Linked DNA regions of Homo sapiens. The protein of the gene in region 1 purifies or fractionates together with the protein of each later gene. This does not show direct contact. Each region holds a gene or a part of one and is shown on either strand. Other genes may lie near its edges. The genes, in order: ESRP1, RGPD3, HELZ and ATXN2.

Region 1 (7,028 bases):
TGCATATTATTCAAGTTCCACATACTGTTTTTTTAAATGCAAGGCCTCATTGCTTTCCCTCACCATTCCCCCTGGAAAAAAGTCTGCCTTAAACACAAAAATTGCAGTGAGATATAAAAAATGACACTCTTCCCATATGATCCAGCAGTCACACTCCTTGGTACTTACCAAAATAAATAAAAAACCTAGGCTAGGAGTGGTGGCTCACGCCTATAATCTCAGCACTTTAAGAGGCCAAGGCGGGCGGATCACGAGGTCAGGAGATCGAGACCATCCTGGCTAACATGGTGAAACTCCGTCTCTACTAAAAATACAAAAAATTAGCCATGGGCGGGCGCCTGTAGTCCCAGCTACTCGGGAGGCTGAGGCAGGAGAATGGTGTGAACCTGGAGGCGGTGCTTGCAGTTAGCCAAGATCGCGCCCCTGCACTCCAGCCTGGGCAATACAGCAAGACTCCGTCTCAAAAAAAAATAAAAATGATTTAAAAAACCTATGTCCATATGAAAACCTGCACGTGATGTTTATAACAGCACTATTCATATTTGCAAGAACTTGAGAGCAACCAAGATGTCCTTCAGTAGGCGAATAAACAAACCATGTTTGGATAAACAAACCGTGTATGGATAAACAAACCATACATCCAAACAATGGAATTCAGTGCTAAAAAGGAACTATAAAGCCACAAAAAGACATGGAGTAATCTTAAATGCATATTACCGGCTAAAAAGACAATCTGAAAAGATTACATACTACATGATTCCAACTATATGACCTCCTGGAAAAGCCAAGACTACAGAGACAGTAAAGATTGGTGGTTGTCAGGGGTTAAGGGAGAGGGAGGAATGATTGGCCAAAGTACAGAGGATTCTTAAGGCAATAAAACTATTCTATTAGGGATAAAAGACTTTAAGGTAGCAGGTAAAAAAAAACAAAACAAACAAAAAAATTCTATACTATGCTATTGCTACAATGTATTTTGATACCACAATGGTAGATAGATGTCATTATACGTTTGTCAAAATCCATAGAATGTACAAGACCAAAAGTAAACCCCAATGTAAACTATGAACTTTGGGTAATATTGACATGTCAATGTAGGCTCATCAGGTGTAACAAATGTACCACTCTGGTACAGCACTTTCACAGTGAGGGGGCACGGGGAGAGAAGGAGAGGAAGGGAAGGAGCAGGGAGAGGAAGAGGGAGAGAATAACAAGGGTTCTATAGGAACAATATACTTTCTGCTCAATGGTGCAGCATGTAGACAGTGGGGGAGTGAGTGAGAGTGTGTATGTATGTGTGTAACAAGGGTTATATAGGAACACTATACTTTCTGCCCAATTTTGCTCTAAACCTAAAACTGGTCTAAAAAATAAAGTTGGGGTCGGGTGCAGTGGCTCACGCCTGTAATCCCAGCACTTTGGGAGGCCGAGATGGGTGGATAACTTGAGCTCAAGAGTTGGAGACCAGCCTGGCCAACATGGTGAAACCCCATCTCTACTAATAATACAAAAATTAGCCAGGCATAGTGGCGGGCGCCTGTAATACCAGCTACCTGGGCGGCTGAGGCAGGAGAATCGCTTGAACCCAGGAGGCGAAGGTTGCAGTGAGCCGAGATCACGCCATTTCACTCCAGCCTGGGTAACAGAGGGAGGCTCTGTCTCAAAGAAAGAAATAATAATAATAATAAAAAGTTGAGATTACAGGTATAGCAGATGCACCTGTAATCCAAACTTCTCAAGAGGCTGAGGCAGAATTGCTTGAGTTCAGGAGTCTGAGACCAGGCTGGGTAACATAGCACGACTACATCTCAAAAAAATAAAGCCTACTAATTAAAAAATAAATGAGGCCAGGATATGGTGGCAAACACCTATAATCCCTGCATTTTGGGAGGCCAAGACAGGAGGATGGCTTGAGGCCAGGAGTTTGAGAGAAGCCAGGGCAAAATATGAGGACCCATCTCCAAAATTTGAAAAATAATTTTTTTTTAAATCTCACTCTGTCACCTGGGCTGGAGTATAATGGTATGATCTCGGCTCACTGCCTCTTGGGTTCAAGTGATTCTTCTGCCTCAGCCTACTGAGTAGCTGGGATTACAGATGTGCGTCATCATGCCCGGCTAATTTTTCTATTTTTAGCAGAGACGGGGTTTCGCCATGTTGGCAAGGCTGATCTTGAACTCTTGAACTCAAGTGATCCACCTGCCTCGGCCTCCCAAAGTGCTGGGATTACAGGCATGAGCCACCGTGCCCAGCCAAAAATGGATTTTTGTTAAAAATTTTAAATTTACTTGGATGTAAAGTTAATAAAGCATGTTTCCAAAACACTTAGAATATTGTGACATCACTGAGGGTCCAAATTGATATTTCTGTATCCTCGTTTAAAACAACCAATCAAGGATACAAGTATTTCACGACAAAAAAAATTAAACACTTCAACCTGCACATTCTCTTATCTGCTCTTCTCCAGGTGTTTACAGAAGCCCCTTTCCCTCCCCCACTGGTTTACCAGGTGAAACAGGTAATTCCTCAAGAGCAAATGACCTTCTGTCCACTTGGCAAAACCATCAAGAATGTTTAATGACTACAGATCTCCCAATTCAGCGTCACTTCCATATTGGCAAGGAAAATGTTTAATGCTCTGAAAGAACGGAACAATTCAATTCAGACATTGTAGAAATACTTTGCATAGATGAGCACAAGTTGATATTCAGATTGGACATAATTGCTTTTAGCCTCAGAAATTGGTCTGGTAGCCTAGACAGGGAAATAAGTATTCCTCTGAATAGTAGTCATAAAATAACTCACCACAGCAGCAATATAACATAAAAACCGTTGCTAAGAAAGCTTATTAGCATTTCTAACTTGTTAAATGAGAAAGACATGTACAAGTACGATATTAAATATTAAAACATTTAAGAATAAAATCCACTTTTTTTGAGACAGGGTCTTGCTCTGTTACCCAGGCTGGAGTGTAGTGGCACAATCATAGCTCACTGCAGCCTCGACTTCCTGGGCTCAAGCAATCCTTGCACCTCAGCCTCCTAAGTAGCTAGGACTACAGTCTCATGCAACCACGTCCAGCTAATTTTTTTATTTTTTGTTGACATGGGGTTTCTCTATATTGCCCTGGCACAACAATCCTTAATATACTTCCTTTCCTACTGAAGTTATCTTTTTCGTTTGTTAAAATATTTTTATTTCATTTTACTTTTTGTAGAGATGGGTTCTCGCAATAATGCCCAGGCTGGTGTCAGCACTCCTGGTCTCAACCCATCCTCCCTCCTCAGCCTCCCAAAGTGCTGGTATTACAGACATAAGCCACCATGTCCAGCCAGAAGTTGTCTTTTTCTAAATTAAGATAGCTTATTAGATTTTTCCTCCACTGCCTTCTAATTTTTCAGTAGGTACTCTGGTTCTCTATTTTGTGGAAGACCAACTATCCACATTAAAAAGTTTAATATATACTTAAGAACTGAATTGTGTCCTCCACCTCCCCCAAAGTCCTATGTTGAAGCCCAACCCCCAATGTAACTATCTGGAGAGAGGGTCTTTAGAAGTTAAGTTTAAATGATGGTCAAAGGGTGGAGGGGTCTAATTAGATAGGGCAGTGACCTTGTAAGAAGATAACTCCTCCTGCTATCCCCCCAGAAAAGGTGGCTGGCTACCTGCAAGCCAGGAAGAGCCATCACCAGAACCTGACCATGCTGACACCCTGATCTTGGACATCCCAGCCTCCAGAACTGTGAGAAAGTAAATTTCTTTTGTTTAAGCTCCGTGGTCTATGGTATTTGTTATGGAAGCTTGAGCTGTCTAATACAACATTCAACCCAACAGAAAAACCAGTGAGAATTTTTCTGGTGTACTAACCTTTTTAACAAAATTCTTGTAAGAATTCTGTCACAATGAGCTTATTCCACCCTCTTCCCAACACTACTGGTCATGCTAAGCCAAAATTCCAGCTAACTGACTCCAAGAAGAAGGCAAATGAAAACGGATTTGACCTGTTTACAAGTAGTTATGAAATATATGCGAGCAAACTTCAATCAGGAAAAAAAATCGTGAAGTAACACAAAAACCAGGTTTTAATTCCTGAAAATGAATGAGAAAGTTTGGGAATAAGCATCTACAACCCACAAGCTACTGAAGTTAACTTAGTTTTAACTTCATGATGACTCTCACAGTGGCTTTTGGGAAGCCACTCAAGGTAACAATTACTCAACTTTACATCTGATATATTAGCACACGCCTGCTTATTAGTTAGCATTTGAAAGACTTAATGAATGTAAGATGACGGGTCATTCATGATTATAGATTTGTAATTATAAAATTACTTTTACAATATATCATGCATCAAATATATTATTTTGGTAACTAAAGAATGTGGGGGACAATCCAGACCCCATTTTATCATCTCCAAAGATGGCTTATTATAATCAGCATAATCTTGTATTTGAAAAACTCAGGGGAGGCTAAAAGCGGGACCAGTGAACAGCAGTTTGTAAAGGGGATATATCCACCAATTAAAAAAATTATTGACTTCATTCCAAAGAAGCCAAAATAAACCCTAAAATCACAGTAACCAAGAAAAAGTGGCCTTAGAATCTGCACTAAAGTCTTCATGTTCTTTCTGCAGCACACACACACATTACACAGCTGAAACTGAATCCTATTCTACATGTGATCACCCCACCAAAAAATCCATCTCCAAATCCGTCCAACCATCTGATTAATTATAACCACTTTCAAAGATGTCTATAATTGTATTTTAGTTTCTCAGCAGAGTAAACAAATTTTGGATAGGCCAATTTTATCCATATGCTGACAAAATTTAAAATGTTTGAAAGTTTCTTGAATTACCTTTTCTGGAACTATCTTTTCAAATGATTCTTGAGTAATGATTTAAAGGATACACTCTGTCATTGTGGCAACGTCCAGTTTGTCAATATCAGGTGAACCAGGGCAACATTTCTTGAATTCTTTTCGAAGATCAAAAAAGGAATAGAAGCATTCAGGTAATAGTACATTCTGAGGAAGGACAAGGTAGATAATGTTAACTAGGTGAATTTGGTTCAATGTTTCTCTCACAATTAGGAACCTAAAAATTGAATATAAGCATATTTTACAATGGAAAAATTTAAAATTTAATGTAAAAGTAGATTTATTTTTAAAAGTTGGTCCTGTTTCTATATTAGATCCTATGTACAAGTCTCATGAAAAAAATTCCTCTTGTTTTAAGGCAGTGGATTACAATGTTTGTGCTCCAGTATGCATTCCATTCAAAACAATTCTGAAGCTGTGATACATTTGTGCTGTTATACTTCATATTTTCTGGCTGTTAATACTAATTTTTTCCAGCCATAACCATTTTAGAACATCTGTATTTTCAGGCAGCACTAGCAGCCCTTTCAGTTTTCACACAGGTGTGGGATTAGATTGTAAAACTGGGTAGTTCTAACTATTGGGTTCTAATAATGCATATTTTCAGTAATAAGTGAGATTAGAATAGTAAATTCCTGATTAACTGAAAAGGCTTATTTCTGTGCCAAATAATAGTCCCACATTAGTCTTCTTGAACAATATTGTAGCTGTACCTGTGAACTCAAATTAGACTTCAAACACAAACAAAAACAAACTCACAAATCCCAAAGGCAAAGGAGAAATGGTTACCTGCTGTTCTTAGCTATTAGGACCACTACCGTGGCTACGAAGCAAAGCTCAACTGTCTGGACAAATATTACACTATTGTTTCCTTTGTTTTTTTTTTTCTTAACAAAATAACCCAGCATTGGATAACTTTTAAAGATAATCCTTTTAAAAACTCAATTCAGATTTTTCTTAAAATTTTGAAATTGTGTTAATTTGCTGGGAATTTTTACCCATTTTTACATTAGAACATCAAGGAAATTAAGACTTTTAAATGTTAAATGTTCATGCAAAATATCTCCTCTCCAAGTTCCTTCTATTGGATTTTACTAGATGTGACCTGTTCATGCTGTATTTTGAAATCAGTATTGCTGCATCATGGTCACAGCTTTTAAAAAAGTTAACAACCAAAAGAACCATGAAACCTCCCTATTACCTACAAAAATGCTCATTTAAAAGCTATTTGTAAGGACAATAACTCACATGTTCAACAATAATCAGTTTAAATTGTTGTGTCCATTTAAAATACTGAGTATTTTATTTAGTGGTTATAACAATGTTGATGTTCTATTAAATAATGTAGGCTAAAAGGCTTACGCCGTATGAATGCTCTTTGTAAATAATGCTTGTCTACAGAAATCTAGAAGAATATATCCAAATACATTCATGTTAGAGAAAAACATTTTAATATATTGAGTGGCAGGATTATTTCATGTTTTGCCATTTTCCCTTTTCTTTAACGAATATACAGAATTACTTTCACTATAACATTAATTGTTTTAGTTTCTGTATTTAATCAAAATTCTAATAGCTGTGGCTGAGGAAAAAGTCTTAATTTTTCTCCAGATGTTTTCCTACACCCAAAGCACTCCACCTAAATAATGAAAACAGCTATTTTCCTCTGGCCCAACAGGGAAAAGATTAAGTCTTGTCCTTCCGTCATGTGAGTTTGGGAGTAAAAAAGTAATCCTTACATATTACTATTTCTGGTAAGGATGTAGCGACTAGTCTAGCATTTAATTTTTTAAAAAAATTCTTCCCCTTTTGTCAAATAATTACTAAGACTCGTATAAAAGGAATGATTTTCTGAAGACATAACAACTTGAGTTACTCCTTCAAACTTTTTGAATTGTCATAATATATTAAACGAAATAAAATCTGCACTTACTTGCCTGGGTCGTCATTTGTCAGTCTACATCTTTCATTGCAAGCCTTGCCTTATACAGGTACCTAAATATATTCTACTTCCATCTTTTCAAGCTCGGTGCCTGCCTACCACAATAAAAAGTTACAGCTCAAACTAATTTAAGTTGTTAAGAGACAGTGTATTAACAATGATTGGCTACACTGGGTGGGTTGTCTCTGCTGTTCCTTTTCCCACAGCC
Region 2 (7,028 bases), on another chromosome or scaffold:
TTTCTTACCAGCATTTCCATCTTCCTTTGGATGCCTTTAAAAGCCTGCCTCCCAGCTGGGAGCAGTAACACACACCTGTAGTCTCAACACTATGGGAGGCCGAGGCAGGCAGACTGCTGCGCTCAGAAGTTCAAGACTAGCCTGGGCAACATAGTGACACCTGTCTCTACCAAAAAATGCAAACCTTAGCCAGGTCCACGTGGTGGTGCGCATCTGTATCCCCAGCTACTTGGGGCGCTGAGGTGTAAAGATCTCTTGAGCCCAGAAGGCAGAGGTTACAGTGAGCAAAGATGGAGCCAGCTGCTGCACTCCTGCCTGAGCAAGAGAGACAGATACTGCCTAAAAAAAAAAAAAAAAAAAGCCTGCCTCCCTCTTAATTTCCTGCTTTAATCCACTCCCAGTCAGGAAATCAGAATCACCAAGCTTCTTATCCCTAGGATAGAGCCTTAGAGCATCACATATTGTGTCAATTAAACATCTTTTATACAAGCTATTCTCCTGCCTTACAATTACAGTTTAATTTTTTATTCATTGCTATTTTCCATCTGATTAAGGTATCAGATATCTAACCAAAAACAAATTAAGATATAGGCATGGTCCTCTTTTACTTCAACAGAAGACAATTTTTAGAAAAAGTGTTTTAAGCCAAACAATTTCTTGCCCTTGGTATAAAGCAGCAGCATGCAGAAAACACTAATTACGGTTTCAATCTCAATGGAATCTAGGCTGGTCCTTAGCATCAGTCTGAGTGATAAATCCCTTATTCCAGAATACACTTAGGAAGAACTACTAAGGATATATTTTTACCTATTTCAAAGAAGAAAATGAGAAAAGGCATTGATTTTAAAAAAAGAATACATGTTACAGTTTGTACTTACTTTTTAGCAAGATCATATTCTTTAGCTTCATAATACAGCTTTGCAAAATAGAATCCTCTCGTTGACTTCTAAAAAAAATTAAAAGTTGTTTTACGTTTCATACAGAAATATTTTCCAACATTTTTTCAAAAGTAGTAAAAATCTGCCCTAAGTTTATGTTCAAATATGCCATTTTCATTCACTTAAAAGTTTTTTTTAAAGCCTGACAAATGCATAATTCCATGTTTTATAATTTCCTATCACAAAACAAAAAATAGAGCTGGGTGCAGCGGCTCATGCCTGTAATCCCAGCACTTTGGGAGGCCGAAGTGGGCGGATCACCTGAGGTCAGGAGTTTGAGACCAGCCTGGCGTTATAACATGGTGAAACTCCGTCTCTACAAAAATAGAAAAATTAGCCAGGCATGATGGCGGGTGCCTGTAATCCCAGCTACTCGGGAGGCTAAGGCACGAGAATCAGTTGAACCCAGGAGGTGGAGGTTGCAGTGAGCCAGAGGTTGCAGTCAGCTGAGATTGTGCCATTGCACTCCAGCCTGGGCGACAGAGACTCCATCTCCCAAACATCATCATCATCATCATCATAAATAAGCTGGGTGCAGTTGGTCACAACTTTAATTCTATTTAATTCTAGCACTTTCAGAGACCAAGGTGGGAGGCTAGCTTTGAGGCCAAGAGTTTGAAACCAGCCTGTGCAACACAACAAGATCCTGTCTCCAGGGGGAAAAAAATAGCCAGGCATAGTGGAGCATGCCTGTGTTCCTAGCTACTCAGGAGGCCAAGGAAGGAGAATCACTTGAGCCCAGGAGGTTGACACTGCCGTGAGTTATGACTGTGACACTGCACTCCAGCCTGGGTGACACAGGGAGATCCTCTCTCTAAATAATAAATACATAACATACAAAAAATAAATTCAAGAAAGCAAGACAAGCAGACAACAGAAGTTAAGAATTTTCATCAGCCTTGGAAATCTTGGAAACCCTGTGGTACCACTCTCTCACTTAACAAACAAAAGAAACCAGCTTTCTTTGGGGAGGAAAGGTATTCCAGAAATCTCTTCTCCTACCATGTGTAAAAGCCTCTATGGGAAAGAATAAGTAAGTACTTAGGATCTATTAAGGCACTGAGGATTCCCTGTGCCTCAATAGTACATGTACTGTTCTCTCTACAGATCAGATCAGTATTTTACAGTCAAGGAGTCAAAAAGGCAGAAATAAATATTGAATTCTTCAAGTAATAAACAAGGTCCACAGCCTGGCTCCTTGGTTACATAAACTCCAAAGTCCAAAATGCTGATGCACACCAGGCTGGGTGCGGTGGCTCACACCTGTAATCCCAGCACTTTTGGAGACTGAGGCAGGTGGATCACTTGAAGCCAAGAGTTCGAGACCAGCCTGGCCAACATACAGAAACCTCCTTTCTACTAAAAATACAAAAATTAGCTGGGCATGGTGGCACACGCCTGTAATCCCTGCTGCTTGGGAGGCTGAGGCAAAGAATCGCTTGAACCCGGGAGGCAGCAGTGGGCCAAGACCGCACCACTGCACTCCAGCCTGGGCAACAGAATGATTCCATCTCATAAAAAAAAAAAAAAAAAAAAAAAAAAAGCTGATACAACCAGAGTATGTTCCATCCATGTGATACAGAGTATACAGCTACTCAAACATCTTATTTTTGAAATTCCAAGACCCCAGTGAATGTCCAAAACGATGAATAGTACCAAACCAGGTTGCCATCAATCGAAACATGTTTCCTGTTTGTGTCCTCCACCCACAAATTTAATGTCTTGTCCATCTCAACTAAGCACTTATCACACACTGTGGCTGTAACTTTTGCAGTTTGGGGTGTCACAACAAAACTAGCACAAATTTCTTTTTCTTTCTTCACAATTTCATGGACAAAAGATTTGTTCTTACCATAGATCTTAGCAACCCCAGTATATGATCTTTTTTCTTTCCTAAGTCAAAAACTCACCTCTTCACTTAAAGGAAGCACTATATGGCTTCTCTCTGGCATATGTGAACTGCCAGCATCGCTACTCTTGCTCTTTGGTGCCATTTTAAATAAAATAAGGGTTACTTGAACACAAGCACTGCAATACTCCAACAATTGATCTGATAACTGAGATGGCTAGTATGTAACTAGCAGGTGGGGAGCACATACAGCATGAATATGTTGGACAAAGGGATGACTTGTGTCCTAGGTAGGACGGAGCAGGAGGCCGTGAAATTTTTATCATGTTATTCAGAACTGTTTGCAATTTAAAACTCATGAAATGTTTATTTATATAATCTTCCATTCAATATTTTTGGACCACGGGTGACGCAGGTAAGTAAAACCACGTAAGGCAATACTGTGGATAAGAAGGGACTACTGTACCAGCAACGAACAATCAGAAAAGGAAATTAAGAAAGCAATTCCATTTACAATCGCATCTAAATGAAAAAAATGCCTGGGAATAAATGTAAACAAGGAGGTGAGAGACTTGTATGCTTAAATTACAAAACGTTGCTCAATGCCAGGCTAACACCTGCAATCCCAGCACTGGCAACAGAGCAAGACTCCATCTCAAAAAAAAAAAGAACTATAGCAATCTTAACAAAAATAATACACAACAGTCAGGACAGCACGTAAAAGAACAAGGCTTGTTCCCCCCTTCCTTTTTTTTTTTGAGATGGAGTCTTGCTCTGTCACCAGGCTGGAGTGCGGTGGCTCGATCTCAGCTCACTGCAACCTCTGCCTCCCAGGTACAAGCTGGGACTACAGGCGCACACCACCATGCCCAGCTAATTTTTGTATTTTCAGTAGAGATGGGGTTTCACCATGTTGGCCAGATGGTGTCGCTCTCTCGACCTTGTAATCTGACTTCCTCCGCCTCCCAAGGTGCTGGGATTACAGGCGTCAGCCACGGAGCCCGGCCAGTTCCCCCTTTTCAAAATGAAGAAATAGATTCAAGGTACAATGCCAAAACATAATAGAAAAATAATTCCATTACCTTCTTTGCTTCCAACTATGTTATTAAAGTAGACAATCTTAAGATAATTAAACAACTTTACAAATTATTCTTCTGTATGATCTTTTGCCTCTAACCTGCTCACTTTACAAGGGAACTGAAGCTCAAGCAGGCAAATGCCTTGTTTAAAGATATATAGCTAGGAAGGAGCACAGCCCATGTTATGTAAACAGGACAATATCTGATTCAAGCAGTACTTCTTTGCATGACAGCAGATGTCACTATAAGCAAATACCTGAATTCACTTAAGCTGCCAAATATCAAGAACTGATGCAGGGCTGAAAACAGGAACAGTAAGACCCTAAGAGATGCCACATCATCGCTATCTTGCACAGTAAGATAGAGATGTAATTGTAATTGTCCAAAACTTAACATTTGTGGCCTACTTTTTCATTATGCAGTTCTGAATTTCTCTTTTTTTTTAAATTCAAACGGAGTCTCGCTCTGTCACCCATCTTGCACAGTCAAATGAATCTCCCTCCCCCTAAAATCCTCCAAAAAAGCTGCTGTTCTCAACAAACCCATCTGATCAGCTCCAAATCTGTGGAGTCCCAACAAGGGTGAAGGCCGTGATTATACAGGACAATGAGGAAAAGTCTAGATACTGAACCATGAGTTCCCCAATCTTCTTCCCCTGGAACATAAGGGTAAGGAAATCTCTCAAAAGGCAGAACAAACAAAAGAGGAGAATAAGAGAAAAATTAGAGAAACTCCAGCTTTCAGGTAAACATCATTAAAAAAAAGGGTAAGAAATGGTCAAAGAAATAATACAAGAAATGCTACAGAACTGAAAGAAATGAGTTTCCCAATTGAAAGGACACTTTCAGAAAACCTTTGTTACCAAGAACAAGAATCTCATCAGACTCCTAACAACAGAACTTCTAGAAAATGGAGCAATGCTTTCAAAATTGCGAAAAAAATTATTTCAAACTCAGAATTCGATAACCAAATGATCAACTAAATTAAGTAAAGACATTTTAAAGACATACCATTAGTTTCCAGACCAGCCTGACCAGTATGGTGAAATCCCATCTCTACTAAAAATAGAAAAAATTAGCCGGGCATGGTGGCGCACACCTGTAATCCCACTACTCAGGAGGCTGAGGCAGGAGAATCACTTGAACCCGGGAGGCGGAGGTTGTGGTGAGCTGAGACCATGCCACTGCACTCCAGCCTGGGCAACAGAGCAAGACTCTGTCCCAAAACAAAAACAAACAAAAAAACCTCTCATCCACTTTTCCTCAAAGCAAGTGAGACTATGCTACACCAAAACAAAGAAAGTAAATGAAGATGACATGAGATACAAGAAACAAAGGGTCTAACTCAGAAAAAAGATGAAGGGAATTCTCAAACTGGTGATAAAGGGAAGTCCCAAGAGCACAGCTGTGTAGCAAAGAGGAAGAAAACCCAATCCAGGTTGGAGAAGTCGGTTAGTAAGGGTATTCCAGGTAGACAATCAATCAATCAATCAATGTTTTAAGCTGAAATTGAACGGATTATGTGACCAGTTTGACCACATTTGAGGGTTTAAGTTGCTGAGTTTAAGTAAGCAAGTAGTAACACAACATACAAGCAAACCAAAAAATAAAGCAATTATTCAGTCCAGGAAAAACAAAACTGCACAACAAGGGCAATTCAAATGCAAAATATTTACCTTATATTTATATAAATGTTAAATATTCATTTAAACAAAAACTGCAATAACAGTACTGAAAGAATGAGGGGCAAACCAAAGTGTCTGAGGACAGTTTTGGAGGAGCATAATAGCCAGTACAGAATGTCTAAAATGGGGCCCGGCGCGGTGGCTCACGCCTGTAATCCCGGCACTTTGGGAGGCTGAGGCAGGCGGATCATGAGGTCAGGAGATCGAGACTATCCTGGCTAACACGGTGAAACCCCGTCTCTACTAAAAACACTAAAAAATTAGCCGGGTGTTGTGGCGGGTGCCCGTAGTCCCAGCTACAGGCTGGGGCAGGAGAATGGTGTGAACCCGGGAGGCAGAGTTTGCAGTGAGCCGAGATCGCGCCACTGCACTCCAGCCTGGACGATAGAGCGAGACTCCATCTCAAAAAAAAAAAAAAAAGAAAAGAAAATGTCTAAAATGGGAGAAAGGGAATTAAAAATAACAAAAGTATATATGTGTGTTACTCAGAAGTATGAAGTATAGATGTAAAGGGCAGAAAAAACAACTAACAGCTGTCAAAGGTGCCTGCCTGTAGTCCTAAGTACTCAGGAAACAGAGGTAGGAGGATCATTTATGCCCAAAAATTTGATGAGCAACACAGCAAGACCCTATTCTAAAAAAAATATAAATAAAAATAAGAGCTGTCAAGTAGACTTTGAGAAGTAGGAATCAGCTGCAGAATAAGAAACCGACTTGACAGAACATAGAAAAACTAAACAGAAGCCATCTGGAAAAAGAAAAACTAGAGAAAAAATTATATATTTTTTTCTTTTTTTCTTTTTTGGAGACAGAGTCTCGCTCTGTCACACAGGCTGGAGTGCAGTGGTGCAATCTCTGCTCACCACAACCTCTGCCTCCAGGGTTCAAGCAATTCTCCTGTCTCAGCCTACCGAGTAGGTGGGACTACAGGCGCTGCCACCACGCCCGGCTCATTTTTGTATTTTTAATAGAGATGGATTTTCACCATATTGGTCAGGCTGGTCTCTCGGCCTCCCAGAGTGCTCAGATTACAGACGAAGAATATTTTTAAGAAGGGCAAAAGCACATGTGAGGGAGTAGAAAAATGGCAAAACAAGAGGAGACTAACAAATGAAAGCACAATGGAAGACTAGAAAGATATGATATACAGACGCATCATCACACTCCAAAACTCCGACATTCTAGAAAGCATGGGCAGTTCACAGATGGCCAGCCTCTGCCAAACTGGGGGAGAATACTAACCTCTTCATATTCTTCACAGCCACTGCCTCTTCTCCCTCCATTCTTTACCTTCTATCCAAAGCACCCTGTTTTGTCATTTCACTCAAACCTAACTTCACAGAATAGCTTCACATGTTCCAAAGTTACTCACTAGTTAATCCATATTCCGCTGAAATCCCCAGGTTCTAATGTAAATGACTTTCAATTTGGGGGAAAAAAAGACTCTAAGTGTAAGAGAGGTGGTCATAATAACCAAT
Region 3 (7,028 bases), on another chromosome or scaffold:
AACCCAACTCTTCTCTTTTCCTACTTTCTTCCTTTTGTGTATAAGCCAGAAATTATCCTAATCAAGGCTAATTATAAACATAATAGCTACTATTAACTAAACGTCTACTATGAGCCTGATGTCGTACGAGGCTTCAGGTTGTCACAATGATCTATGACAGGTATTACTAGCCCCATTTTACAGATGTTTCCCCGTGAAGCCCAGAGAAGTTAAGTACTCTGCCCAGGCTCACACAGGCAATAAGTCGAAAATCAGGATTCAAATCCTATTCTATTTGACTCTGATTTTTGTCCTCTGCTCTTCTCCAACAAGAAAAGTAACTCGTATCTGAGGCAGAAGTAGTCAAAGTACTTTTACTCTTCTCAAGCCTATGAAAGTACCCTGAGCTCCTTTTCATCACCACCTTTTCTAATTATCATGTTTTAATACTATCGTTCTTTTACATTTTACTGCAGACATTTAACATTTTATATTATTAATTAAATATTTTACTAACTAATAAGAATTCTTGACAGCACTTACAAACATTTCTATGGGTAAAGGAGTCTGAGTTATAAGCCACTAACCTACAAGCAAATTTCTAAAATACAACCCACATGTAAGCCAAGAACATCCTTTACAGTTATATTTGAGAGTAGGAAATGTATGTTGTTCTCTCTTTATGACTTAAATCTCTTTATGATTTAAAAAGGATGCTGCTTAGTGGTTCTCAAGGTCTGGTCTCTAAAAGCAACTTACTAGTTCAGGGGTAGGCAAACTACAACACGAAAGTCAAATGTAGCCATTGTTTTTGAAAATAAAGTTTTATTGGAACACAGTCACACCCATTTGCTTATGCATTGTCTATGGCTGCTTTCTCATTACGACGCAGAGCTGAGTAGTTGCAACAGAGATCACCTGCCCTGCAACACCTAAAATATTAACCGTCTGGCCCTCTGCAGAAAGAATTTGCCAAATACTATGCTAATATATATAAGCCAAATACTTTATTTTTATTTTATCAACTACCATATCTATTTAGCTATGGAAATTAATTTATTCTGATTCCAAAGAGTACTGAAAAGATGACAAAAATACATACTACAGAATAAAAACAAGTAAAAGGGATCAAAGTCAGTGGGAAATAAGGGTAAAGTGAAGTCTGGGTAATCTTAGCACACGTAGAAGAAGATGTCACCTAACTGTTAAATTTGGGCACCATCGTTGTTTCAACCTTACTAGCAGCTAAAGTAAAGAGGAAGACAGACCAATTTCACCTTTTCACTATGTGAAAAAAAATAAAATTCTAGCATTCGCTAATGAGAAAAACTACTTCTAGGTTCTCATGAATGGGACATTATGGTACATAGTAAAAAACGTCCTCCACAATATGGTTAGTTATAGTCAATACAAAAGCAAGTTTCACACAGCTCTGCTTTTTGAAGTGTTTGTTAAATAAAAAGTTTTTGTTAAATAGAATAGAACACCTATAAATCCAACCAAGAGCAAAGGAAATGTGGGCTAACATGTCCTTTCTTTGTCCTGTTGGATCTTGGCATAAAATTTAGATATAGGCAATAAATTGACAATGTACAAAGTAATTCCTTATGTCATGCTTACATGATGAAACCAGGGACCTCTTCCCAAAAACAAAGAGCAGATTTGATTAAAGGCACCCTTGGCCTCCTTAACACTAGTGGATGCACAAACTGATTTATGAAGGCTTATTATACTCAAGACTTTTCATTCAGAAACAATGTACTAACATCAGCAAAGTTAACTAGTCAATAGGACATGAAAATAAACATTGTAGGTATATACACAATTACCATTAAAATGATATTCTACCCAAACTAATATTGAAAGATATTACTGTGCTAAAACCATCTTACTGTGAAATGAAACTGGTAGACCAAAACAGGTCTGATCATCTACTCATACAAGTTTGGGGAACCTCAAAGTTCAAGCTTTACCTGGTGGCTCTGTGAAGAAATCAGGGCACAGTGTGAATCATTATAAGCCCATTACACAGTAAATGAGTCAATTAAGTTGGGATTTTTTTCTTTATTACTATTCTCTTCCTATCCATGGAATATATTCAGGGGCCAATACATATCTTTGAATGTTGCTTTTTAACACATTGTATCGGGGGAAAAAAGTCTAAATATTACCTTCTGTAGAAGCTGCATCAATCATTACTCTTTGCATGAGTACTGGTTCCAATCCAAAGTCGAAAACTATGGTTTGGCGAAAAGTTCCAAATATTTCTGTGTTAAATGCTATCCCGACTTTATACACGTAATGATCTAATCCATTTTGGGCCATCTTTCCTCCTATCCATTCTTGACAGTTTTCTGGGACTTCTTGTGATACCTGGGTAGTACTATCTCCGGCAGATATTGCAATGATACTAAAATGAGGACGATGAGCATCATAAAGCAATGCTACACGATACAGCATTCTTGCAGGCTACAAGGAAGTTAAAATAATTCATTGAGTACAAGGGGGTGAAAAATCCAATTGTAATTGGGCTCTTCAATGAAAATATTTCCATAAGGGACTTTTACTTCCCCAAGCTTCTAAGATACTATAGCCATTTAAGAAAAAAATCAGAATGGTTTTTTAAAATCAGTTGTTAAAATTATTTATTTATGCTATATCGCTAGCCTCCCTTCTCTTCCTGTGACATGTTCATTTTTCACTGTGGCAAAAGCTATCACCCTATATAACCATCAACCTTCAAACTTTCCATACTCTTCACCTACAGAAGTTTCATGTAGCCTCAAGTAGGAAGCCTTCGTAAGAGGGCAGTTACCTCTGAAAGCACTGGATTGGGTTCAAGGCTGAAGCTAACTGTTCTTAGATTTTTCATCTCCAGATACAGAAAGTACAGCAGAAGAAATGCCACAAAAAAGACAAAAACTTTTCCACTGAGCATACTCACAGAAACTTTTTACTTTGCTTCGATCTTAAACTTTGACTACTATAATTTAAGATGGGAAGCACTGCAGAAAATGCCCCATATTAAAAACCCATTATCACAGAATTTGTGACTTCATCATATCAAATATAAAAACAAGTTGTTATGGTTTAAAAATCTTAGAACTACTAGAATAAACAATTTTTAAGTAGTTAATTACAAGCCATGAACCCCATCCTATGTCCCAAGTTTAGAAGACAATATGTCAAAGATCTCTTTACCAAATAAATAAATATGAAAGCACCCTAAATATCTACAAAGATCTCATCTAAAAGTATTTTTAAAATTGTACTTTTAATGATCAAAGTACAGAAATATACTTTAGTACAATATAGAACCTATATATAATGTACTTAGATTAAAATATTTTCAATATTCTTTAACACAGAGATTCAAAGGTCAAAAAAACGTTCAGAAAATTAAACACAACTTTTATGCTTTAACTAGCACAAAATTCATACCTTACAAGTGAGAGCAAAGGTCCATGTCTGGTGGGATTTTTTGGTGCTGACAGTAACTGACAGGTCAGGATTGTGCTCTACCTTTACTCCTTCTATACATTCACTAAGCTGAAAACAGACAGCAATTTATGTTATGTTTTTATTGCTAAGGGCACAAACAAAATCTTTTAGCATGGAAAATAAATGTCAACAGTTAAGATGATGATGGAACTGTTTACAGACCAAAGTATTTTATACCTTCATTTTCAGTAATTTTGACAAGAACAAAATATAGTAAAGCTAAAATAAGAGAGAAAAGAAAATTAACCACCACCACAAAAATGGCACTCAAAAACTGCCTGAATGAAGGTAATTAATACAGTACAGGCAAATCTCCAAACAAGTGGTTTAGTTCTGCTCTTCATTTTAACAAATGGGTCTACTATAGCTACTAAAAACATCATTCTATCAGAATCAAGTTCTTTGCAAAGAAGATAAGGAAATAAACCAAAATAGAGCACACAATAAAGTCAAGACTCAAGTTCATTGTTTAAGACAAACAAAAAATAATGTAGCTTATTTTCCTCACCACTTTCTCAGGAGACAATGAATTCATCCACTTTTCTATCAAGGTTTCCATGTAACTGCCTGAGAGCTGTTTATTCTCATTTTGCTGTTTCAATTTTATCAGCCGTGAAGCATATCTTTTCTGCCATTCTGCTAGTTCTTCCTGGGAATGTGCTGAAGTACACTGGGCACCATACCTACAGATTCCTTGTTCTAAAAATCTAAGTAGAATAGGAAAGACTGTTTTATCATATACTTTGTTGAACCATTTAAAAATAAACTCCCAGCATTTGCCCTCTGATTCTTCAATAAAAACAAAACTTCATGTGCTGAAAGGCCATATTTATCGTACTGTCTTGTACAAAGGAGGGAGAAGAGGTTTAGAGAACATTTACAACAGTTAACCAAAACATCAGCTCCCCATATTATTCACTGACTTTCTCTGGAATTAGGGGATCCTAAGGCATAGGTATTCACGTCGGCCCTCCAAAAGAGGCACTGAAAAGTAGCTTCCTTGGTCATATAAGGACTCTTACTAGACAATTCCTCTTAGTGTAACTGGGTTTTGTTTTTGATTTTTTGTTTTTTGTTTTTGAGACGGAGTCTCACTCCGTTGCCCAGGCTGGAGTGCAGTGGCGTAATCTCGACTCACTGCAACCTCTGCCTCCTGGTTTCAAGCAATTCTCTGCCTCAGCCTCCCGGGTAGCTGGGATTACAGGCGCCCGCCACCACGCCTGGCTAGTTTTTGTATTTTTAGTAGAGACGGGGTTTCATCATCTTGGCCAGGCTGGTCTTGAACTCCTGACTTGGTGATCCACCCGCCTCGGCCTCCCAAAGTGCTGGGATTATAGGCGTGAGCCACCACGCCCAGCCAGAGTAGGATTTTTTTAAGCAATACTGACATCAAGTGGATTTGCTGCTCACACACAGGTATACCCTACTTCCCAAAATGATAAGGACCTTAAAAAAATTTTCTATATATGGGAATTTCATTCTGAAAAAACAGTTAACATATGACTAATTACCATTTTAAGGCTTTTACTTTTCACCTTTAAACATAGTGATTTTACTCTTTTCTACATTACTATTACCTATATTTCAGTGAAAATATATTAACTTGCTTGAAGCTTTAAATAAATTTAGAATCAAAGTTTTATATTACAGAGTCACAAATTTATTCAACAGTCATGTTAAATTCAAGGGAATAAATTATAAATGTTCATTTTAAAGGACAGAGAGTCAATGATTTCTCGACGTTTACAACTCGGAAAATTCAACTGACAATTCAGTGACCAAAAACAGATAAAAATAAAATACTTTGATAATTTTTTTTTTTGGAGATAGTCTCGCTCTGTTGCCCAGGCTAGAGCGCAGTGGCACGATCTCGGCTCACTGCAGCCTCTGCCTCCCGGGTTCAAGGGATGCTCCTGCCTCAGCCTTCAGAGTAGCTGGGATTACAGGTGCCTGCCACCACAATGCCCGGCTAGTTTTTGTATTTTTAGTAGAGATGGGGTTGCATGTTGGCCAGGCTGGTCTCGAACTCCTGACCTCAAGTGATCCACCTGCCTTGGCCTCCCAAAGAGCTGGGATTACAGGCATGAGTCACCATGCCCGGCCCTGATCATTAACTTTTTTTTTTTTTTTTTGAGATGGCATTAACTTTTTAAAAAAGTTTTAAATACCCTGCAAAATTATAGGCAAAGCCAGTTTTTAAATAAAAATAATAAAAACATTGATAAAAGATCTTCTGAGAAAAAATGAAAATTAAACTAGAAATATAATTAAATGGCCGGGCACAGTGGCTCACGCCTGTAATCCCAGCACTTTGGGAGGCCAAGGCAGGCGCATCACCTGAGGTCGGGAGTTCAAGACCAGCCTGACCAACATGCAGAAACCCTGTCTCTACTAAAAATAGAAAATTAGCCGGGGTGGTGGCACATGCCTATAATCCCAGCTACTTGGGAGGCTGAGGCAGGAGAATCGCTTGAACCCGGGAGGCGGAGGTTGCAGTAAGCCGAGATCATGCCATTGCACTCCAGCCTGGGCAACAAGAGCAAAACTCTGTCTCAAAAATAAAAAAAAATACATAATTAAATGTAAATATAATATAAAACTATAAATAGCAAAAGAGAGATGTTATATTACAGACCATTTTTCAATTGGAAAAAATATGGATAGTAAGAAATAAGAAATGAACCACAGCACAATATGAATTTTCAAATGGTTCACCGTATTTGAAAAAATGAGTATATTTAAAACTTTTCCTGATGGTACAACAAAGTACTTGAACTTAAAATTATACTATTTATTAAATTCTCTTACACTTTTGAAGACACATTTAAAATCATTTTATGTTTCTTTTCAATATGTCTTAATGGGCCAAATCTTTGTCTTTCTATTGCTTGGCTTTAAATTATTTCCCTAAAAAGTGAAAGTGTTATATTCTTATCTGTACTTCAAATCTTCTCATATTTCCTTTTCATAGGATTGTGTTCTGTCTCTTCTACAACATAACACCACTAGGATTTTCAATACTTACACATTAGTTTCCTGACTATTCAATAATCAAAACCATGTAGCAAATTTCCTTCGCTATCAAAAGTAATCTAAAGAGGCGGTGAGAATTTATATCTAAAAATCCCACTAGTTACAAGTTCTTACAAAAAGAACCGAAGAGTTTACCATTTTAACTGTAACTTTAATCATTCCTTCCACATTAATAAATAATTATTAAATTTTGAAAGGTTAGCCCTTCATTATGAATTATTCATAAATTCTACATAAGAATTACATGAAGATAATATTTTTCAGAAAGGTTAAAACAATTTAACATTTCTTTATCTATTTTATGCTCTACTTTTTACATAAAGTATTGTCAACTTCAATCACCACAACCTAAGTAAATTTCACATTAACAAATGGCCATGGCCAGGTGTGGTGGCTCACATCTGTAATCCCAGCATTTTGGGAGGCCAAGGCAGGAGGATTGCTTGAGCTCAGGAGTTCAAAACCAGCCTGAGCAACATGGTGAAACCCCATCTCTACAAAAAAAATACAAAAAT
Region 4 (7,028 bases), on another chromosome or scaffold:
TTTTTTTGAGATAGGGTCTCACTATATTGCCCATGCTGCTCTCGAACTCATGGGTTCAAGTCATCCTCCAGCTGGGATATCAGGCATGGAGCCACTGTGTCCAGCCAATTAGTCTGGTTTTTTTGTTTGTTTGTTTTTTGTTTGTTTGTTTGTTTTGAGATGGAGTCTCACTCTGTTGCCCAGGCTGAAGTGCAGTGGCACGATCTTGGCTCACTGCAACCCCTGCCTCCCGGGTTCAAGCAATTCTCCTGCCTCAGCCCCACCTAGTAGCTGGGATTACAGGCGGCAGGTGCCACCATGTCCGGCTAATTTTTGTATTTTAGTAGAGATGGGGTTTCGCCATGTTGGCCAGGCTGGTCTCAAACTACTGACCTCAGGTGATACACCCACCTCGGCCTCCCAAAGTGCTGGGATTACAGGCATAAGCCACCATGCCCAGCCAGTATTTATGTTTGAGACGGGGTCTCACTCTGTCGCCCAGGCTGGAGGGCAGTGGCATAATCACAGCTCACTGCAGCCTCTACTTCCTGGGCTCAAGTGATCCTCTCGCCTCAGTCCCCCAAACAGCTGGGGCTACAGGCATATGCCACCATGCCCAGCTAATTTTTTTGAATTTTAGTAGAGACAAAGTCTCTGTTGTCCAGGCTGATCTTGGGCTCCTGAGCTCAAGCAATCCTCCTGCCTTGGCCTCCCAAAGTGCTAAAATTACAGGTGTGAGCCATCACACCAGGCCTCCAATTACTCTTTTTGAAGAGGATACTATATAATCACAACTGATGGGCATTTTTTCTCCCCTGTTTTTCTTCATAAAATCCATGTGAATATCTATGTAATGTTGTTCATCAAAAGCCAATGCATAGCCTCATCAAAAAGTCAGAGCTAAACTACAACTATTTATTCATTATAAACTTAGTTACTCAATTCATGCAGCATGCAAACTACAAGCAAACACAGGCAGGATTATTCTCACCTTTACCTGCTCTATATGTCTTGGCTTGATTCACTGGCATGGGCGTCATAGGTATTGGGTATAAAGGCTTGAGAGAATTAAAAAAAAAATTAACATTAGGCACCTATGATAATAACAAGGTATTCTGTCACTCTTAGTTTTATATTGCTAGAGAGCTAGGCATGAGAAGGTTTCCTGATTCTCCATTAGTCATTAAAAAATTAGATCATACCCACAGCTAAAAGGAACAAACCCCAAACTACAGTAAATCTAAACCATCTTTTTCACAGAAAACATTCTCAGATTTAGGTCCTCATACTTAACAACACACTGAATCTCTGCATGCCTGTCTGTTTCAAATGCATATGCATAACCATCACACCCTCAAGTCACTGAAAACCTAAAGAGTGCTTGGTGTCAGATACAAACAATTGGGGAGGCTAAGTGAACATCAAATTCTATGACTTACTTGCACGCCTGGGCTCACTGGGACTGGATACATCATATTTGGTGCAAAACAAACAGGCTGAGTATAAACTGGAGTTGGCTGTTGATGACCCACCATAGATGGGCTAGGTTGTGCTTGAGGCCGAGGTGAAGTTGGGGTAGTAGAAGGCTTTGGCTACAAAAACAACAATAAATTCAATTATCTCAAGGTAACAGATGAACTATTATTGCAATTTAAAGACGGATTTTCCCAGTCTTTCTAATTTTACTTGCTTTAACTATGTCCCTTTTATTGAAAACAAAAACACAGCACATAAATTTTCACATTTCAATAAAAGAAAAAATGTTTCAGTAGGAACTTAAAACTTTGTCAATTAAAAAATATTAAAAACAGTGGCAGCTATTTTTAAGAAACTGATGGAAGTGTTTTTAAAAATTAAAAATAAATATATCTTCTTATGATCTCAGTCGAATAATAACAATAGTACAGTCATCTCTTAGTATCTGTGGGGGATTGGTTACAGTACCCTGTGAAGATACCAAAGTCTTGGAATGCTCAAGTCCCTTACATAAAATCATGTAGTATTCGCATACAACCTATGCATATCCTCCTATATACTTTACATCATCTCTAGATTATTTATAATACCTAAAACAAGGTAAATGCTTTACTGTATTGTTTTGGAATAATGACAAGGAAACGTCTGCATGTGTTCAGTATAGATTATCCTAACTATGTTTTTGATCCATGGTTGGTTGAATCCAGTGATGCAAAACCCTCAGGTGCAGAGGACGTATCTATAAACCTGACAGCCTAGCTAGCCAACCATCGTCAAATTCTGGGTCAGAGAAATTCAAAGATTTGCCCAAGATCACATCTAATTGATGACAAAACAAAGACCTTTTTTTAATGTTTAAAAAGTATTCATTAATGGCCATGTAAAAAAAAGAAAGAAGGTTGGTTCAGCACACTAAAACAAAATTCAGATGGCAGGTATGGAAGAAGGACTATTACTAATAATTTTTCTTTTTTTGGGACTAGATAACCTCAAAGAAAGTAATAAACCTACCTGAGAGAAGGAACGTGGGTTGAACTCCTTTGCATTGGGATTCAATGTTGATTTCCTAACTTGCCTAAAAAAAATATAAAGGCCAGTGAAATCTACATGGACTTTACGTTGCTCTAAAATCTTCCATACCTGACAATTTAAAAAAAATTGCTAAATATAGATTTAAACTGTTCTCACTAGAAGATCACTAATCGTTTTTATTGAAACATATACACTTATATTGCCCATTCCTTAATCCCTTAAAGAATACAGCCATAAAAGAACAATTTTTTAAAAATCTGAGTAATATACAACCGTTCCTCTCAAAGGCAATCAAAAAATACTTTTTTTTTTTCCTTCACAGAGTCCCACTCTGTTGCTCAGGTTGGAGTGCAGCAGTGCAATCTTGGCTCACTGCAACCTCTGCCTCCCGAGTTTAAGCCATTCTCTTGCCTTAGCCTCCTGATTAGCTGGGATTACAGGAGACTGCCACCACGCCCAGCTAATTTTTTTTAATATTTATTTTTAGTAAAGATGGGGTTTCACCATTTTGGCCACGCTGACCTTAAGTGATCTGCCTGACTCAGCCTCCCAAAGTGCTGGGATTACAGGTATGAGCTACCACGCCTGGCCAATCAACAAACACTTGAGCTGAAAAGACAGTAGCTACTTATGAAATATCCTTAAAAGCAATTCTTAACATAACAGTATCCTTTTATTTATTTATTTATTTATTTTTGAGACAGAGTCTCGCTCTGTCACCCAGGCTGGAGTGCAGTGGCATGATCTCGGCTCACTGCAGCCTCCACCTTCTGGGTTCAAGCAATTCTCCTGCCTCAGCCTCCCGAGTAGCTGGGATACAGGCACCTACCACCATGCCTGGCTAATTTTTGTATTTTTAGTACAGACAGGGTTTCACATGTTGGCCAGGCTGGTCTTCAACTCCTAACCTCAAGTAATCTACCTGCTTGGACCTCCCAGAGTGCTGGGATTATAGGTATGAGCTACCAGTCAACATACCAATATTCTAGCATGCAGTAATTCTTATGTGAGAAGATATTTTACATGACATACCTGGAAAAAGTCATGGCTGTAAAAAAAAATTGCCTCAAATCAAGAATAAGCAGTCCCCAATTTATCAATAAGCTGCATTCCAAAACTTCAGCTTTAACTGGATTGTTTGGTACCCAAACACCTAAGTCAATGGTAGTTAAGTTCTGAGGTTAGCCCCTAAAAGTCCATTTAATTAATATACTGAATGTGCAGAATTAAGTCTATCTTAACAAATCTAAACATTAACTAAAACACAGTTTCTGATGAAAAATATTTTGAATTCCAAGTAGAAGCACCGCATGCTTCTCTCCTTGACAGTGGCAGTTTTTCAACCTAGCAGCACAGTGAGGGTGACTAATGAGTGGAATCCAGTAAAGATAGGTCCCCTGAATTGATAATTTTTCAACTCCTGTTCATTTACAGAAAAACTTTTCTTAATTTATGCCTTGTTTTTCTAGCCCTGGGGTACAAAAAAGGGGAAGAACAGAAGAGTAGCACAGGGTGCAATAACCTCATTTACTTAAGATGTCATTTGTTTGGACTAGCTGTTTGTAAACTAAGGGCAATGTATAAAGTAGTCTAAAAGTCCAGATGGATTCTTCACAGTTGGAAGGACCTAAATGCCTTTAAAAAAAAAAAAGTTAATTGAGTAACAGGATGGTCTAAGTTCCAGGTTTACTCACTCAGCTGCGTCTTTCTTCTCTTCCTTATCGTCTTTCTCTTGTTTACATGCTGGGCTGGAAGTCTGAACCCCTTGGGAAGTGACCTCAGGTCCCCTCTTGTGCTCCGTGTTACTAAGTATTGAAGGGGAAATGCTGGGGCTATTCGGCTTGCTGCTGCCACTGGTACAGTTGCTGCTGCTATTTTCAATGAAAGAATCCTTAGCACTTGGTTCAATTTTGTCTTTGATCAAATCTCTTGATTTTTCTCCCTCTCTATTTTTGTTTAGTAGTTGATCCATAGATTCAGAAGTAGAACTTGGCTGTAACTAAATAAAGGAAACAATTATACTTAAATATCTTAAATAACTTTAGTAATACATTTTTGCCATGAGCACAAGCTACGTAATATTAACTATACGCATGAAATGTTCTGAATAAGGCTTTTTTCATACTTTAAGAGTAATGCTTTTACTATAAACTAACAATAACAGAGTACCTATATAGCACAACCACAGTCACCAAAGCACTCAAATGTCCTAGCCTCTAAAGTTCAATATTTACTGAGTGCTTACCACATGTCAGAAATTGTGCCTGCTGGGTGAGAAAAATATGAAATAGTTTCTATCCTCTTATACTTGTCATTTAAATAAGATCAGACACTTCACAATAAAATGAGTAAATGCTAAGAGAGTCTATAGAAAAAGCAACCTATAAAAAAGAAAGGTTTCTCAGTAAAGTGTCAGCTAGTCTAAGGTGTGAAAGAAGTTTAGGAAAGGTGTTGGGATGGAGAATAGTCTAAGTAAAAGGAAGAGTATGTTTAAAAATCCAAAGAAAAGGGAGAAGCTGGCTCTATCACATAAAACAATAGCACCAATGGGGGCCGGGCACGGTGGCTCACGCCTGTAATCCCAGCACTTTGGGAGGCCAAGGCAGGCGGATCACGAGGTCAGGAGATCGAGACCATCTTGGCTCACACGCTGAAACCCCATCTCTACTAAAAATACAAAAATTAGCCAGGCATGGTGGCAGGCGCCTATAGTCCCTGCTACTCGGGAGGCTGAGGTAGGAGAATGGTGTGAACCTGGGAAGTGGAGCTGCAGTGAGCCAAGATCACGCCACTGCACTCCAGCCTGGGTGACAGAGCGAGACTCCGTCTCAAAAAAAAAAAAAAAGATAGCACCAATGAGCTGGGCACAGTAGCTCATCACTGTAATTCCAGCCCTTTGGGAGGCTGAGACAAGCAGACTGCTTAAGCTCAGGAGTTCAAGACCAGCCTGGGCAACATAGTGATACCCTGTCTCATTTAAAAAATAATAATAAAATAAAATAAAATAACAAAAATAAAGAAGTAAAGAAAAGCACCAATGGCTGGACCAAGGGTGAGACACACATGTACAAGTGAGTCAGAAAATGATAGACTCGTCAAAAGGAATATGACAATAAAGGAACTTAAAAGCTATGTTCAGGGCTGCGTGCAGTGGCTAACACCTATCATCCTAGCACTTTGGGAAGCCAAGGCAGGTGGATCACTTGAGGTCAGGAGTTTAAGACCAGACTGGCCAACATGGTGAAACTCCGTCTCTACTAAAGATAAAAAAAAAAAATTAGCCAGGCGTGATGGCACACGTGTAAATCCCAGCTACTTGGGAGGCTGACATATGAGAATTGCTTGAACCCAGGAGGCGGAGGTTGCAGTGAGCCAAGATCACACCACTGCACTCCAGCCTGGGTGACAGAGCAAGACTCCATCTAAAAATTAAAAAAAAAAAAAAAAAAGTTTTAAAAAGCTACGTTTAGGACTTTGGCTTTTAATTCTCAGGGCAAATGGGCAGTCTATACGGAATTTTAAGTAGGGTAGAGTACTGGGCAGATTTATAGTTCAGAAAGGTGAACACAGCAGCTTTGTGTGAAATGAACTGGAGGGAGGCTAATTAGGATGTGGAGGGACCGTCATGGAGGCTGGACTAAGCGCTGGGCCTAGTCAGCTTGGAAGGTCATTAAGTAGGTGAATTCAGAATGAGACCTGACTGTACATATTGGTCAGTTAGACATTCTAAACCCCTAAGTAAAAAAAGGAGATGGCAGGGGAGAAGAGACAGAGCATGGTGGCCAAACAGAACCTTCCAGTGATCATCCCCAACAAGGAGCACCAAATTGAACAACTATCCACACAAGAAAGCACCTTCATAAGAACCAAAAATTAGGTAAGCGATCACAGTACCCAGTTTTGACATCCTATCAAGGAAAAAGACACCAAAAAAGATAAGGAAGATAGTCTTGAACTGCCCCTCCAACACCCCTGACATTCCCCCACAATGCAGTGTGGGGTGGAGAAAGAATCTGTGTGCTCGGGGGAGAGAGAGAGAAATGACTGTGGGATTTTGCATTGAAACTCAGTGCTGCCCTGTCACAGTGGAAAGCAGCATAGGACAGAATTCAGCCAGCACCCACAGAGGGAGTATTTAGACTAGCCCTAGTCAGAGGGGAATTGTCCATCCCAGTGATTAGAATCTGAATTTCGGGCTGGGCACTATGGTCTGTAATCCCAGCACTTTGGGAGGCCGAGGCGGACGGATAACCTGAGGTCGGGAGTTCAAGACCAGCCTGACCAACATGGAGAAACCTCATCTCTACTAAAAAACAAAAAAATTAGCCAGAGGTGGTAGCGCATGCCGGTAATCCCAGCTACTCAGGAGGCTGAGGTAGGAGAATTATTTGAACCCGGGAGGCGGAGGTTGTGGTGAGCTGAGATTGCGTCACTATACTCCAGCCTGGGCAATAAGAGCGAAACTCTGCCAAAAAAAACCAAAAGAATCTTAATTTTGGTAAGCCCCACCACCGTGGGTAAAGTCCTCTGGGGTCCTAAAT

What was found.
Region 2: the proteins of ESRP1 (region 1) and RGPD3 purify together in Homo sapiens (affinity purification with mass spectrometry; 2 studies listed by BioGRID and IntAct, with this or other methods). This does not show direct contact.
Region 3: the proteins of ESRP1 (region 1) and HELZ purify together in Homo sapiens (affinity purification with mass spectrometry; 2 studies listed by BioGRID and IntAct, with this or other methods). This does not show direct contact.
Region 4: the proteins of ESRP1 (region 1) and ATXN2 purify together in Homo sapiens (affinity purification with mass spectrometry; 2 studies listed by BioGRID and IntAct, with this or other methods). This does not show direct contact.

What each region holds. Positions count from the first base shown.
Region 1 is NC_000008.11:94,644,165-94,651,192, reverse strand, and holds part of ESRP1 (epithelial splicing regulatory protein 1), read right to left. Parts: intron 5,026-7,028; coding exon 4,911-5,025; intron 1-4,910. UniProt on the Homo sapiens protein: mRNA splicing factor that regulates the formation of epithelial cell-specific isoforms. Specifically regulates the expression of FGFR2-IIIb, an epithelial cell-specific isoform of FGFR2.
Region 2 is NC_000002.12:106,458,387-106,465,414, forward strand, and holds part of RGPD3 (ranBP2-like and GRIP domain-containing protein 3), read right to left. Parts: intron 947-7,028; coding exon 879-946; intron 1-878.
Region 3 is NC_000017.11:67,186,169-67,193,196, forward strand, and holds part of HELZ (probable helicase with zinc finger domain), read right to left. Parts: intron 4,188-7,028; coding exon 3,989-4,187; intron 3,529-3,988; coding exon 3,421-3,528; intron 2,449-3,420; coding exon 2,151-2,448; intron 1-2,150. UniProt on the Homo sapiens protein: May act as a helicase that plays a role in RNA metabolism in multiple tissues and organs within the developing embryo.
Region 4 is NC_000012.12:111,484,295-111,491,322, forward strand, and holds part of ATXN2 (ataxin-2), read right to left. Parts: intron 4,487-7,028; coding exon 4,182-4,486; intron 2,531-4,181; coding exon 2,467-2,530; intron 1,572-2,466; coding exon 1,419-1,571; intron 1,038-1,418; coding exon 971-1,037; intron 1-970. UniProt on the Homo sapiens protein: Involved in EGFR trafficking, acting as negative regulator of endocytic EGFR internalization at the plasma membrane.